2 linked regions of the Homo sapiens genome follow. The protein of the gene in region 2 purifies or fractionates together with the protein of the main gene of each other region. This does not show direct contact. Each region holds a gene or a part of one and is shown on either strand. Other genes may lie near its edges.

Region 1 (9,207 bases), on a different chromosome or scaffold from region 2:
CCTCCTAGCATCCCTCTCATTAATGGTGCTTCATGGACATTTCACGCAGTGTAATTACGCATTATAAAGAGTTTGGAAAGGAGCAACACAAAATCTTGTATAACCTATGAGTTGCTTTAAAACTCACATGTAAGAATATTCACAACAGCATGGGCTTCCAGTCTTCTTATTACAATATTTACTTTAAACTTGGGATTTAAAGTTGACAAAGACCTTAATGAATAGGAAGACAAAGGGAGCTGTCTGTCCATGGCTCGTTAGCTCCTGAAGTTAATGTTTCTCACAGGGACAAGAGTCAGCCAAAGGATAGTGCTCTAGGCAAATTGGAAAATGTTCCTCCAGCCACAAACCATGGATTATTGCCTAGGCGTTGAGTGGCAAATCTTACGAGATGCTTCCCAGCTTTTCCCAGTTAACCATTCATCCTGTCAGTGGACAGCATGACCTGTTATTGGGTGCTCACTAGAACCAGGGACATAAGTGATCTCATTTAATTCTTACAACTACCTATAAATAATATACTACCCTAGTTCATCTAAGACCATTGACTATAAGACACACTGTTATTTTATGTGCCAAAAAAGGAAGCCACTGCTGACTACAAGTCTAAGACCCCATACATTACAAGATGCTTTTTTTCCCCAGGAATGTTAACATTACATAAATTACACTGTCTTAGCATTGTTGAAATGGGAATATTTTCCCACTTTACAAAGAAACTGAGGTACACAGAAAGAGAAGTAATTTACCCTTAAGGTCACAGAGCTGGTAAGCAGAGCACAAGGATACAGACCCAGTCAGTCCAGTCACCTTTTCATGGCAGTAAAAGATTTCCCAATAGCCTCGTGAATTACTCAAAACTGCACTTGGCAGAGAGACAGACATCGGCATCTAACTCTGGCTCCAGCAGGAGCACAGGAGCTCATTAGTGCAGCAATTCTCTGAACATCTCTGAACCTGACCACTCTGAACATGTCCACTCAAGAGGACACTGCAAGAGACATCTCTAATAAACTGCCATTTCTCTCCAGGGAAAAACAACGTGGTACAATGGAAAAAGTGTGTTTTGTTTGCTTGGACACAGGGTCTTACTCTGTCATCCAGGATGGTCTCAAACCCTTGGCCTCAAGTAAACCTCTTGCCTTGGCCTCCCAAGGTACTGGGATTACAAGATGTGAGCCACTGTGCCTGGCCCAAAAAGCACGTTTTTTGAATCAATGTCCTAGACTGACATTCTTGCTCCACCATCTAACCAGCTTGTCACCTTGGGCAAGTTACTACTTTGCTCTGAGCCTCGGTTTCCTCTTCTGTAAAATGAGGCTATCACACCTCCATTAGAGGGCTGCTCTAGGACTGGAGAGGATATATACATAAGGGGCAGAAAACAGTACCTGGCTGAGTTGGAACTCAACACTGCTCTCTTTTCTATACTAGTCTTCTGCCTTGGGACAGAATCAAAGAATAAGCATTCCCTGTGACCTCAGCAATTCCCAAGGAGACCTTCAGGAGATAAGGATCAGACAGAAGAAAGCAGACCCTGAGGGATATTCAGGCAAAGAAAATGAACTAGAAACACCTAGAGAACAAGAGACAGTGTGTGTTTAATGAACTTCCTAACTCTGAATGAATGAATTGACAAATGGAAAAAAAGAAAGAACAGGCACTTTCCATCAAAAGATACCAGTCAACAGACGTGAGGATTAATATAATTTTATATTGAACCTGACACAGAAAACTGGTCTTTGAAGATTCACTTTGATACTGAAAGTAATCTACAGTGAGGAGAATTTCCCCATTGCTCTGTTCTCATATTAAGTAATAAACTGTGCAGTTCTCCCCTCTCTTTCCTCAAGGGATTCAGAAAACCTTCCAGAAAACAGAAGCATTTGACTTGAAGGAAAGGCAACTAATATGGCATATAGAAACAAACTCTTCATCCTTTAAAAACAAAAAAACCCTCCATCATTTCTATAATGTCTAGCAGTTTCTGGCATACAGCAAAATTATTATTATTTTAATAAATAATTTCTTTTTTAACTCCAGGCAACTGCTTTTTGTCCAAAACATGCTACGTATTTATTCTATCGAAAAGCCTAATCTTTCCTGCTTCTTCTCCAGAAGCATTCTAACATAACCTCTAATAATGAACATTATGTTTGGTATATGCTGTGTCTAATCTTCTCTCACGATGACATAACTTGCTCTTCAGACCTCCAACAATCAGCCCAAACCAAACTCCTGAATTTTTCCTCCCTCCTCGTCTGTCCCAGCCCCTCGGTTGCTTGTCAGTAGACTCAATTACCACCATCTTCTGATCTGAATCAATTTGTTAATCTCCTTCCTCTCAGGCACAGTGCCTTTTACTGGAGATAAACATGCAAGCAAGTTCAGTTCACCCAGAGCCCTCCACATCCTCTCCCTCCAAGCCTTCACACTCCCAAAGGGGCCCAGAAAAAAAAGAAAGAAATGATATGGCAAAATCCCACTCTATCCACATCACCTCAGGGGGCTTGTTTACCATAACTTTAGACCAACTACCATTTTTGGGGAGAATCTGAAAGAATATTGTTTATGGGCTAGGTAAGAGCTAACAGAAATGGCAGTTTCATTCTTCCAATATGAGACAAGCGTCTCTGTGTGACCCAGCCCTAAAACTCACAAACCTAGACTCCTCAAACTCCCCATACTCCAGAGTTCAAGGATAACCTGCCCTCCATTTTTCCTTATTGTTTTCCATATAAAAGTCACTCGTTGTTTCCCCTCCAGCTTACACCTGGCTCCTGAAATGACTCCTCTGAATCCTCTGAGAATCCTCAAAACATGTAAAAGCCTCATTCCTTTTAATGCATGTGCAGAGCGGTGATGGTGTGAAGACGCTGGCACTTCAAACGTGAACGTGGCACGAGCCCTGCCCTCAAGGAGCCCACAATTTTCCCTCAACTCTAAAAAAGGATGTCCTCCCTGGACAGTGTCTGTAAAACACAGTGACAAAGTACTTCATAGCTCTGGAGAAAGAGCGAGGGTGGAAACAGACTTTGCCCTTACATTTGACGCCCAGTAACCATAACAACCGATGGTTTAAGTAACTATCAACCCACTGAGGGGCTAAGTTTTCCAAAAATCGTTTTCAAAAGGGGAAGACTCCCCTGCACCAACTCCCATGGCAGCCGTACGCTCTAGGCAGCGTGTGGTGCAATGTGGCCAGCCGTTCCCCGCCTTCTCCGGTTCCACCGTATGGTTTCCGTGCTCAGCAGCCAGCAGCGACGGCGTCCACGGCCACACCGCCTCCCCGCAAGGCACCTGGCGCTAGGCCTCAGCCCAATGTCACTTGTTAACCTTCCGATCCCCCGGATTTCGGCACGCCGCCGCCTCCCTGCTAAAGCACACAAACCACCCCACCGCCACCCGCGTTCTCCAGGAGTTGGAGAAAAACCACCGGGGCGCATACAACCTCTGACAGATTCGAGTAAAAGTAACTGCGGTTCTCGACTTTCAAGCATTTCGCGTCGCCGGTGAGGGGGGCGGCAGGAACCCGGGGCCCCATTCATAAAATTGCAAGCCGTTTTCCTCTAGTTTGCGCGTGACGGTGCCTCCCTGCCCGGGGCCGGGGACCGCAGGCTGAGGGGACGGGGCCGGCAGCTCCTCCCGCCGGAGTCGAGCCCGAGCCATCCGGCGGGGCCCCGAAGGAAGGGATTGCCCGGGGGTGTCGCGGGTGGGCGTCCCCTTCAATACCTGAACCATGACAGCGGGGTGGGGGGCCGAGCCCCGCCACGCCAAGGGCCGCCGGACCCGACCGGTACTTTGAAGCCCGCGGGGTCGATCCGCGCCCAGCCCGGGCCTTATCCGCGGGGCGCTCCCTCCACCGCCCCCGCCTGGCCCTGAGACTGCTCACCCAAGATCCGCTGGCTGCCTCATTGTACTATGCCGGCGCCCGTGCTCCCGGCCGCGCGACTCCGGCTTCGGCTGGGGCACCGGCCGCGGTCCTGCTGCCCTGCCGCCCGCCCGCCCCCGGGCACACGCCGCCCCGCCCCGCCGGCGGACCCGCCCCGCGCCCGCGGCCGCCGCCGCCAACCAGAGGGCGCGGGGGCGGAGCAAACGGCACGCCAGGCCCAACCAATCCAGTTCTACCGCGCGCCGAGGTGAGGCCGCGGAAATGGGGGAGCGATTTGTCAGGTCTGTTAAAGGGGCCACCGCCCTTGGAGCTAGGGAGAGGAGTGGTGGGGAGGGTTACCTGGAAGAGCCCCAGGTGAGGGGGACAAAAGCTTCACTCTCCCAACGGGGCTGCACACTGTCCCCAGCTCTTTGCACTTCTTAATTTCCTCTTCCTGCAGTCTAGCAGCAACAAGTGCCCTTGAGACGAGGGCTGGGGGTTGAGGTGGGGTGACTGAGGCGCGGAGAACCAGGGGTATCCCCCTGGGCAAATTCACTCGATTTGCATTTTAGAGGGCCATCAGACGTATCTATCCCCATCCAACTGCAGACATTGATTTAAAAAGGCAAATTCCCAGTTTCCCGCATTATGTACTTCCCCCACCTGACTACCACACTACCACATCCTATCCTGAACTAACTCTGTTACTAGTTTTTTTGTTTGAGACGGAGTCTCGCTCTGTCGCCAGGCTGGAGTGCAGTGCCGTCATCTGGGCTCACTGCAACCTCCGCCTCCTGGGTTAAAGCGATTCTCCTGCCTCAGCCTTCCGAGTAGCTGGGATTACAGGCGCGTGCCACCATGCCCAGCTAATTTTTGTATTTTTAGTAGAGACGGGGTTTCACCATGTTGGCCAGGATGGTCTCGGTCTCTTGACCTCGTGATCCGCCGGACCCAGCCTCCCAAAGTACTGGGATTACAGGCGTGAGCCACCGCGCCTGGCCACGAGTTCTTAGAGCTTAGAACTTATATAGTATTAACTACTCATTTTTAGAGAGGCAATATCTGAGGCTCAGAGAGGTAAAGTGACTTCTCGAGGTAAATTCTCACTTAGAATGAGCTTCCTGGGATGGCAATGCCCATTGTGCATTTATCTTCTGCGAACCTGGGTTGGCTGGCAGAAGCACTGGCACATAGGGAGAGTTCCCCCTTCCCCCGTAGTCCTTGCCCCTCTGCACTTCCCACCCACCACAAGAAAGGACCAAGACAACAAACAGATGTGTCAGTGTGTCTCCTGCATTAGTGGGTCCCAAATGTCAGATCTTCAACGTCAGATCATCCTGGAGGGTTTTAACATGAAGATCTCTAAGTCCCACCCCAGAACCTGTAATTCAGTAAGTCTGAGATGGCCTTCGACACCCCTCCCTCCAGGTGATTCTAATGCAAGTGGTACAAGGACCACACTCAGGTGCGTGTTTTGAGTCTATCATAGTCATGAAATTCAAATTCAATTGGCAAAATGAAAGCCAAACTCCTTTCATCCTCAGAATTAGTAATATGGTTGGGAGACTTGCTAGTAAGGGAGGAGGTCACCTACTAAGACACTCATAACAGAATAAGTCATGCCAAGAACTGAGTGTAGAAGGGCACTGGACCCAGATGAAACAACATCTGAAAGATTGAAATCCTCAAGCAGGAAGAAGATTTGATGCCTCAAGCAGAGGGAAGCCAGGCTAGTTCTCTGACCCGTGAGACAGTGCATAAATATCTTAATGGCAGACACACTCCGGCTCACCACCAGGCCCAGTCATGATCCCAGAAGAATGCCCTGCTACTCTGGTGCCTCATTCCAATGCCAGCAAGCCCTGCCTACCCTCCTGGCAACATTCCTCTCCCCTTCCTAGTATCCCAGACACCTGCCTGACCCAGAAGTCATTGTCCTCAGACTTGGAGGTCAGCCCTCGCCCACTAGATCTTGCAGGTCAGCTGCCTCCCACACAGATCTCAGGCTCTTGGAATGGCCTCCACACAATAACCCTGTTTGTGCTGTGATTTCTGATGGATGTTGTGTTGCCAGGGACAACTCTGCACAAGGATTGATCAGCCTCATGAGAATGCAGTCTCTGGGCTGCAGGCATTACTGCCTGGGATCACCACTTGCTTCTGTTGCCCTTCCCAAAGGAAAAAGAATTCATGTCCCAACAGAAGAGGTTTCCAGTTGTGGTTTTCTGGAAATGTGCAACAAAGGCAGTTACCAATGGAGACACAGCCTGAAGCTCTCCTTGGCCACATCTTCAGCCCCCTGCCTCAGGGAGAGAGAGAGAGAAAGGGTAGGGGCCCTGGAGCTGCCCCTTGCAAAGGTCCTTGGAAGCTGGCAATGTGCCTCTCAGAGTGCCCACCAACCTCCTTTCCCTACCAAGCTCCACGTAAGCATTAAATTAATTAATACACTACCAACCAGATCTCAAACTAGAAGCCAGTAAGATCCAGCATGAACACTTAGAAGGATCCCTTCTTTTTGAAATCTGAGGAATTTGGATGCATTGAAAAATAAATGAACATATCATAACACAATAATGTTTCCTACCTTTTTTTTTTTTTTTTTTTTTGAGATGGAGTCAGCCTCTGTCATGTTGCCCAGGCGGGAGTGCAGTGGCGTGACCTTGGCTCACTGCAACCCCCGCTCAGGAGGAGAGCCCAAGAGTTTGAGACCATGTTGTCCAGGCTGGTCTCAAACTCCTGGTTTCAAGCAATTCTCCTGCCTCAGCCTCCCTGAGTAGCTGGGACTACAGGCACACGCCACCACACCTGGCTAATTTTTTTTATTTTTATTTTTAGTAGATACAAGGTTTCACCATGTTGGCCAGGCTGGTCTTGAACTCTTGAGCTCAGGTGATCTGCCCACCTCAGCCTCGGCCTCCCAAAGTCCTGGGATTACAGGTGTGAGCCACTGCGCCTGGCCTGTTTCCTACCTATTAAGAGGTTACTATGTGCCAGGTACTATGCCAAGTCCCTGGAACATAGCAGTTCACTGAAACCTTACAGTAACTCTTTAGGGTAGATATGACCATTATTTTCTCCTTTTTATGGATGCAGAAACTGAAGTTCACAGATTAGTGATGTGTCCAGGATAGCAGGGCTAGTTGAAGGAAGAGCCAGCATTCATGACCGTAACCACCAGGCTTTTTTGAGATGGGGTCTTGCCATGTTGCCAGGGCTGGTCTCAAACTCCTGGGTGCAAGCGATCCTCTTGCCTCAACCTCTCCCAAACTGCTGAGATTACAGGCGTGAGCCACTGTGCCTGGCTCAAATCATGCTTAAAAGAGTGATTTTAGAGCTTGGCATCTGTGACTCATTGTAGTACCTCTGAAAAAGGTTAGGGATTGTGAGGCTAAATTCAGATATCAAGCAAGATTCCTTACTTTGTCCCCCAGATAGCTACTCTATATGTATAGCATGTACCAAGTGATCTAAATTTTTTCACCTAGAGTAGGATCTTAAGTCACAGAAATGCAAGCCCAAGCTAATACTCTCCCCTCTTTCTCTACCCCCAACCCCTCAACCCTCATGCCAGGCTCTCTTGAAACCCAGGTTTCAACTATCAGGTTAAGCCCACATAGGTTCTGATATACTTGAAAGATTCCCAATTATTGCATTTCAAGATAATCCCTATTTTCTCACCAATTTCTAAACAAACCAAAAAATGCTCTAAGATTTTATTTTTTGTTTTGAAACAGGGTCTTTCTCCGTCACCCAGGCTAGAGTGCACTGGCACACTCATGGCTCACTGCAGCCTTGACCTCCTGGGTTCCAGTGATCCTCCCACCTCAGCCTCCTGAGTAGCTGGGACTACAGGCATGCGCCACCATGCCTGGCTAATTTCTTTCTACTTTTTGTAGAGATGAGGTCTTGCTGTGTTGTCCCAGGCTGGTCATGAACCCTTGGGCTCAAATGATCCTCCTGCCTCGGTATCCCAAAGTGCTGGGATTAGGCATGAGCCAGTATGCCCAGCCTAAGATTTTTAATTCTGTTTTTGACATTGCATTCTTGGAGACAGAAATGGTTAAGAAGTACAGAAAACCAAAAAGTTGATCCACTTGTATATCTAACAAAGATTAGGGATCATCATGCCACAAGCCACACCATTAATGAGCAATCACTGTGCACTCAGTACCAGGTGGCGGGCTGAGTACTGGGGATAGAGATGAAGGCACTTGTAGATGCTAGATCTAGTAGAGAAACTGACACGTTGATAGACCATTATAGGCTTCCTTAGAGGGAAGCCCAGGAGCCGTGGGGACACAGAATAGGCACTTAGAACCCTTGGGGAACCCAATAATGTTTTTAGGGGTGGCCAGATGAAGTTCATTATGAAGAGAAGCCAGAAAGTTTACAAAAACCCAAGTAAGAGTCACCAAACCCAAGGGAGAAGAGATTGAAAGAGAGAGCAGTCAACAGCAACAGATGCCACAGAATGGTCAAATTAGAAGAGGCCTGAAAGTATGCTCTGGGATTTCGAAATTAGAAGATTAGGGTCATTGACACATGCAGCATAGATGTGGCTGGAAATGTAGAGGCTCCCTAGAGCTGGGCTGAGGAGAAGAGCTAAGAAAAAAGAAGAATCGGCCAGGTGCAGTGGCTCACGCCTGTAACCCCAACACTTTGGGAGGCCGAGGTGGGTGGATCACTTGAGGTCAGGAGTTAGAGACCAGCCTGGCCGACATGGTAAAACCCTGTCTCTACTAAAAATACAAAAATTAGCCAGACGTGGTGGTGCATGCCTGTAATCCCAGCTACTCGGGAGGCTGAAGCAGGAGAATCGCTTGAACCCGGGAGATGGAGATTGCAGTGAGCTGAGATCATACCACTGCACTCCAGCCTGGGCAACAGAGTGAGACTCCATCTCAAAAAAAAAAAGAAGAAGAAGAAGAAGAAGAATGAAGAGACTGTGCAGTGGAGGACTGATGGGATAGGGTCCAAGGAGTCCCAAGGGGACAAGAGAGTAGCCCTGGGCCAGGGTAGGAAGCAAAGTCATCTCTCGAGAGTGGGTGGGGAGGGGATGATGAAGGGCTTTGAGGGGAACCATGAGGGTTTGGAAAGCCACCAAGAGGAATGAAAGTGGGAACTGCCCGATGGAGAGGGAGGATTCTGGGAGACCCATGCGTTTGTGGTGGCACCAGGTCTGTGGAGTTGGATGGATGGCTCTCTGGGGCTTGGCCACAGAAGCCAGGTATGGAGAATCCAGGGTTAGGGATGGACAGACAGGAGAAACACTAAACAGTTGGGGACACTGACAACAGGGTGGTTGAAGTGATAGGTCATGGGTTCCATGCGGGATA
Region 2 (4,910 bases):
CAGTGGTGCAAAATTAATTCTCTTCTTTTTTGAGTTGTAGTGAATATGCAATTTCTGTGTTCCCCTTCCACCCTTTAAATCTTAGGATGACAAGTTATAAAGAAAGAAGATCTTTGTCTGGGACCCCCAAAGGGATCCTTTCTCTAAGGTCTCTGACGGTGGGTCCAGGACCAGACCTCTCTACAAAAAATTGCCCCAACTACAGTTTGCAACCCCAAACCACATTAGAAGTCTGTGCAGACATCCCTCCGTGGTGTGTGTCTTGGTGCATTGGAAAAGGAGTCAGGAGCCACTGTGAGGTGAGAATGAAAGTGGATCTCAGCTGGGCACGGTGGCTCACGCCTGTAATCCTAGCACCTTGGGGGTCAAGGTGGGTGGATCACTTGAGGTCAGGAGTTTGAGGCCAGCCTGGCCAACATGGCGAAACCCCATTTCTACTAAAAATACAAAAAAATTAGCTGGGAGTGGTGGCATAGGCCTGTAATTCCAGCTACTCTGGCTGCTGAGGCACAAGAATCATTTGAACCTAGGAGGTGGCGGTTGCTGTGAGCCAAGATCATGCCACTCCACTCCAGTCTGGGCGACAGAGCAAGACTCTGACTCAAAAAAAAAAAAAAAAAAAAGTGGCTCTGACTTTCCCATAGGCTTAATATTACATTTGGACATCGTGGCCAACTCTATCAAGACCACAAATACCACTTACAATTAATTTTAAATTATTCATCTGTACATAGTTTTCTAAAATGTATATAATTCAAACAGAGCATCTTGTAACTGAAGACACACCATATCTATGATATCGCATTAGTCCATGTGGGGAAAAGAAAGATCAGATTGTTACTGTGTCTGTGTAGAAAAGGAAGACATAAGAAACTCCATTTTGATCTGTACTAAGAAAAATTGTTTCTGCTTTGAGATGTTGTTAGCCTATAACTTTAGCCCCAACTCTGTGCTCACAGAAACATGCGCTGTAATGAATCAAAGTTTAATGGATTTAGGGCTGTGCAGGATGTGCCTTGTTAACAATATGTTTGCAGGCTGTATGCTTGGTAGAAGTCATCGCCATTCTCCATTCTCGATTAACCAGGGACACAATGCACAGCAGAAAGCTGCAGGGACCTCTGCCCAAGAAAGCCTGGGTATTGTCCAAGGTTTCCCCCCCACTGAGACAGCCTGAGATATGGCCTCATGGGAAGGGAAAGACCTGACTGTCCCCCAGCCCGACACCTGTAAAGGGTCGGTGCTGAGGAGGAATAGTGAAGGAGGGAGGCCTCTTTGCAGTTGAGATAAGAGGAAGGCTTCTGTCTCCTGCTTGTCCCTGGTAATGGAATGTCTCGGTGTAAAAAGCTGACCATTCCCATTCGTTCTATTCTGAGATAGGAGAAAACCGCCCTGTGGCTGGAGGTGAGATATGCTGGCAGCAATACTGCTCTGTTACTCCTTGCTACACTGAGATGTTTGGGTAAAGAGAAACATAAATCTAGCCTACGTGCACATCTGGGCACAGTACCTTTCCTTGAACTTATTCGTGATACAGATTCCTTTGCTCACATGTTTCCCTGCTGACCTTCTTCCCACCTGTTGCCCTGCTACACTCCCCTCGCTAAGACAGTAAAAATAATGATCAATAAATACTGAGGGAACTCAGAGGCCAGCGCCGGTGCGGGTCCTCCACATGCTGAGCGCCGGTCCTGGGCCCACTGTTCTTTCTCTATACTTTGTCTCTGTGTCTTATTTCTTTTCTCAAAAAAATTTTTCTTTTTTTAACTGCAATAAAGTAGGTCGTTACCCCTAAAGTGAGCGAGTCCCTTCCTGCTCTAACGTCCAGTGCTTCCTTGAGATCATGGAATTCTGGAGAGTTTCTGTGGATATATTTGCACAGATATCTTTGAAGACACAAACACTCACCTGGGACGTTGGCCGGAGATGTCTTTTTATTTTTGTGCTGTAAAATTCTCTTACAGCAAAAATAGGCTTTAGAAAGGTCTTCTACTGTCTTCAGCAACCATCTCATCTTCCAGCTTCACCTGATTGTCCAGTTATCATACATTTGACTTTCAAATGTATGAACCAGCATGTACCCCATGGATTTAATCTTATCTACCCCGTGGATTCAATCTTCTTATCAGAAGGTTCTTTTATGTCAAAAAACCTGCTGTCAAGGCTTGAAGAGCCGGCACACTCAATGGCAAACACAGCACCGAGTCTGCTCTGAATCCTGGAGGATCTGGCCCTCCTCTCAATCCCCACTCACAGTCACCGTCTTACAACTCAGGGCCACCTGGGATCAGTCATCAGTCAGGGTGCGTAAGCCTTGAATACCAGGTAGCCTCAGGAGTGAAAAGATAAATGTCCTAGATCATTACCTTATTCAGTGTCCCCACCTTGCAGCGCATTCCAACCACCTGGGAGCATTTAAAACTCCAGATGCCCACACCACACCCTGGGGCCACCCATCAGACCTTCTGGAAGCAAGACCTGGGCCTCCATGGCCCCAAAAACTCCCTAGGTGATCCGATGTGCAGCCAAATCTGAGAGGCCCCATTTAAAAAAGAAAGAACATGGGTGGTACATTGAGGAGTATTTACATTTTATAAAATGACTTAAAAATTTGAAGGCATTTTTGAGCATTTCCAATTATATGGAAGAGTTACTTCTACGGAATAGTTTTTGCTCATGGAACTCAAACAGATGAAGCACCACTGTTACAGAATAATGTGCTCCAGATGAAAATGTCTCGTTTCTGTGAATTTCATGAAGAGCAGAACATTTCTCAAGAATCCTCTTGAGCCAGTAATCAATCCTGTCTCAAAAAATGTTCTTTGCCATTTCCTAGATACTGCACAAAAGTGGCCATGTCGACATTTGTCCACCCACCCTCCAATAAGCTGGAGCGACAAAGGGACATTCCATCCCTGTACCCTTAGTGGTAGCCATGACACGATGGCCAGATCATGGACTCCGGAAAGCTTTCTGTTTTTACTGGAAACATAGCAAACCTTGATTTAGCTCCAAGAAATTGAGTAGGGAAATATTTGTTTTTTAGCAATTGTCATAGTAAATAAAACTCTAAGCAAGTGTATCTACAGTTTTTGGTTTTGGGTTTTGCTTTTGTCACTTACTGGATACAGTTTAAGACTTCTCTCAACACAAGATTTTCTCTCATGTAGAAACACAAGCTAATTTTGAAAAAATGGAAAATAAGTGGGGGGGACAAATCCATCCAACCTTTTTTTCTGTCACCCTTTTCTGCGTTTACCTCTTCATATAACCCGTGAGACCGCACCAATGCAGTGGATGAAGTCTATCATGGGAAGATGAGAGATAGATAGAGTCCACAAGAAAAGTTAGAAAAAAAATTTCTAATTGGCCGGATTTAAAACAGAATGTGAGCCCCTTGGAATTGCTGCAGAATCTTGCCACTCCTTTTGAGAGTGTCCCGGGCAGTCTTGCCCATCTCAGCGTCTCTTTTTGGCCAGGGCCATGCAGAACCACATTAGGTTTGAATGTGACCTCAGAGCCTCACCTCAGAGGGGGGAGTGTGTAAACTATTGTATTTGATTTTTGTATGAGTTACTTTACATGGAAAAATTAACTTATGCCACCTTATAGGTAGAAAAGCTGGGGTAGAGAATTAACTAAGCCGATTTTCTGCCCTACATCAGTCAGGGGAAGAAAAAAATAACAGATTTACACATCCCTTTGCAAGGCAAAAATTGCATCTACAAATAGCAAATTCTTAACCTGAATTTCCTGACCAGTCTCTTACATGTGGATCACTTTTCTATTATTCACCCTCCTGTAGGGTGGGTGGATCAGCCTTTTTTGAGATTACCCAACTAGTATATTACAAACCAGTCCCTTGGTATGCGCCGGGGGCAATGGTGAACAGGATAGACACAGTCGCTGGCCTTTATGGCACTTACATTCTGGAAAAGGAGACAGACAATGATGCATAACAAATAAATCATATGATTACAGACTGTGATCATGTCTAAGAAGGAAATAAATGGCCCGATGTGGTGGCGTTAACAGGACAGTACTTTAAGCGGTTGAGGAACTTCGTGAACTGAAATTTGAAGAAGAAGGAACGAGTCATTAAAATTCCTAGAAGGCCTGTCCAGGAGAGGTGACAGCAACTGCAAAGGCCCTGAGGAGGGAAAGAGCAGAGAGGAGGCCTGTGGTTGGAATGGGAAAGTGAGCGATGGGAAGTGAGCTTGGAGGAGGGAGCAGGGGCCAGATCACATAAGGCCTCACAGGCCACAGCAAGGAGCTTCATTTTCGTTGAAGAGAAAGAGAGTGCCACTGAGGGTTCACTGTGGGGTCTGGCAAGATCTGATTTATGTTTGAAAGATCACTGTTGCCATAGAGGATGGATGGGAGCGGGGCATAAAGGGAGGCTGGAAAATCACTCCAGAATCTACTGTAGTAAAGCCATGGAAGATGATGGCAGCATGGACGTGGGAATGGATATGGAGAAAAATAGGCAAGCTTGAGTTATACTTTGGAGGGAAAGTTGCCAAGTCTTGCTGATGGGTTGGATTCCCAGCTGAGGGAAAGGGGGATAAAGAGCTTTACCTGCTGGGGGGATGCTGGTGCCATTTCCGGAGATGAGGAAAGTGGGGAACAGAGCTGGCCTGCAGAGTAAAAATCAAGAGTGGTTTGACCATGTGAAGTTTGAGATGTCTGTGAATTAGGTGGAAATATCCAGTAACCTGTTGAACACAAGAATCTGGAGGTTGGGTTACGTCTGGGCTAGAGATATACATTTGGGAGTTACAGTGGAGAGATGCTATTTAAAGCCACAGGTCTAAATGAGGTCATCCAGGGTGAGTATACACAAAGAAGAGGGCCTGCGACCAAGGCCTACAGGAACTCCAATGTGTTTTCGGACATGGCCACATGTGATT

Evidence for each region. The genes of interacting proteins can lie anywhere in the genome.
Region 1: the proteins of SLC6A20 (region 2) and TEX2 purify together in Homo sapiens (affinity purification with mass spectrometry; 2 studies listed by BioGRID and IntAct, with this or other methods). This does not show direct contact.

Annotation. Positions count from the first base shown.
Region 1 is NC_000017.11:64,259,276-64,268,482, forward strand, and holds the start of TEX2 (testis-expressed protein 2), read right to left. Parts: upstream 3,986-9,207; 5' UTR 3,893-3,985; exon of another isoform or gene 3,452-3,892; intron 1-3,451. UniProt on the Homo sapiens protein: During endoplasmic reticulum (ER) stress or when cellular ceramide levels increase, may induce contacts between the ER and medial-Golgi complex to facilitate non-vesicular transport of ceramides from the ER to the Golgi complex where they are converted to complex sphingolipids, preventing toxic ceramide accumulation.
Region 2 is NC_000003.12:45,753,627-45,758,536, reverse strand, and holds the end of SLC6A20 (sodium- and chloride-dependent transporter XTRP3), read left to right. Parts: 3' UTR 1-85; coding exon of another isoform or gene 86-100; 3' UTR 101-3,088; downstream 3,089-4,910. UniProt on the Homo sapiens protein: Mediates the Na(+)- and Cl(-)-dependent uptake of imino acids such as L-proline, N-methyl-L-proline and pipecolate as well as N-methylated amino acids.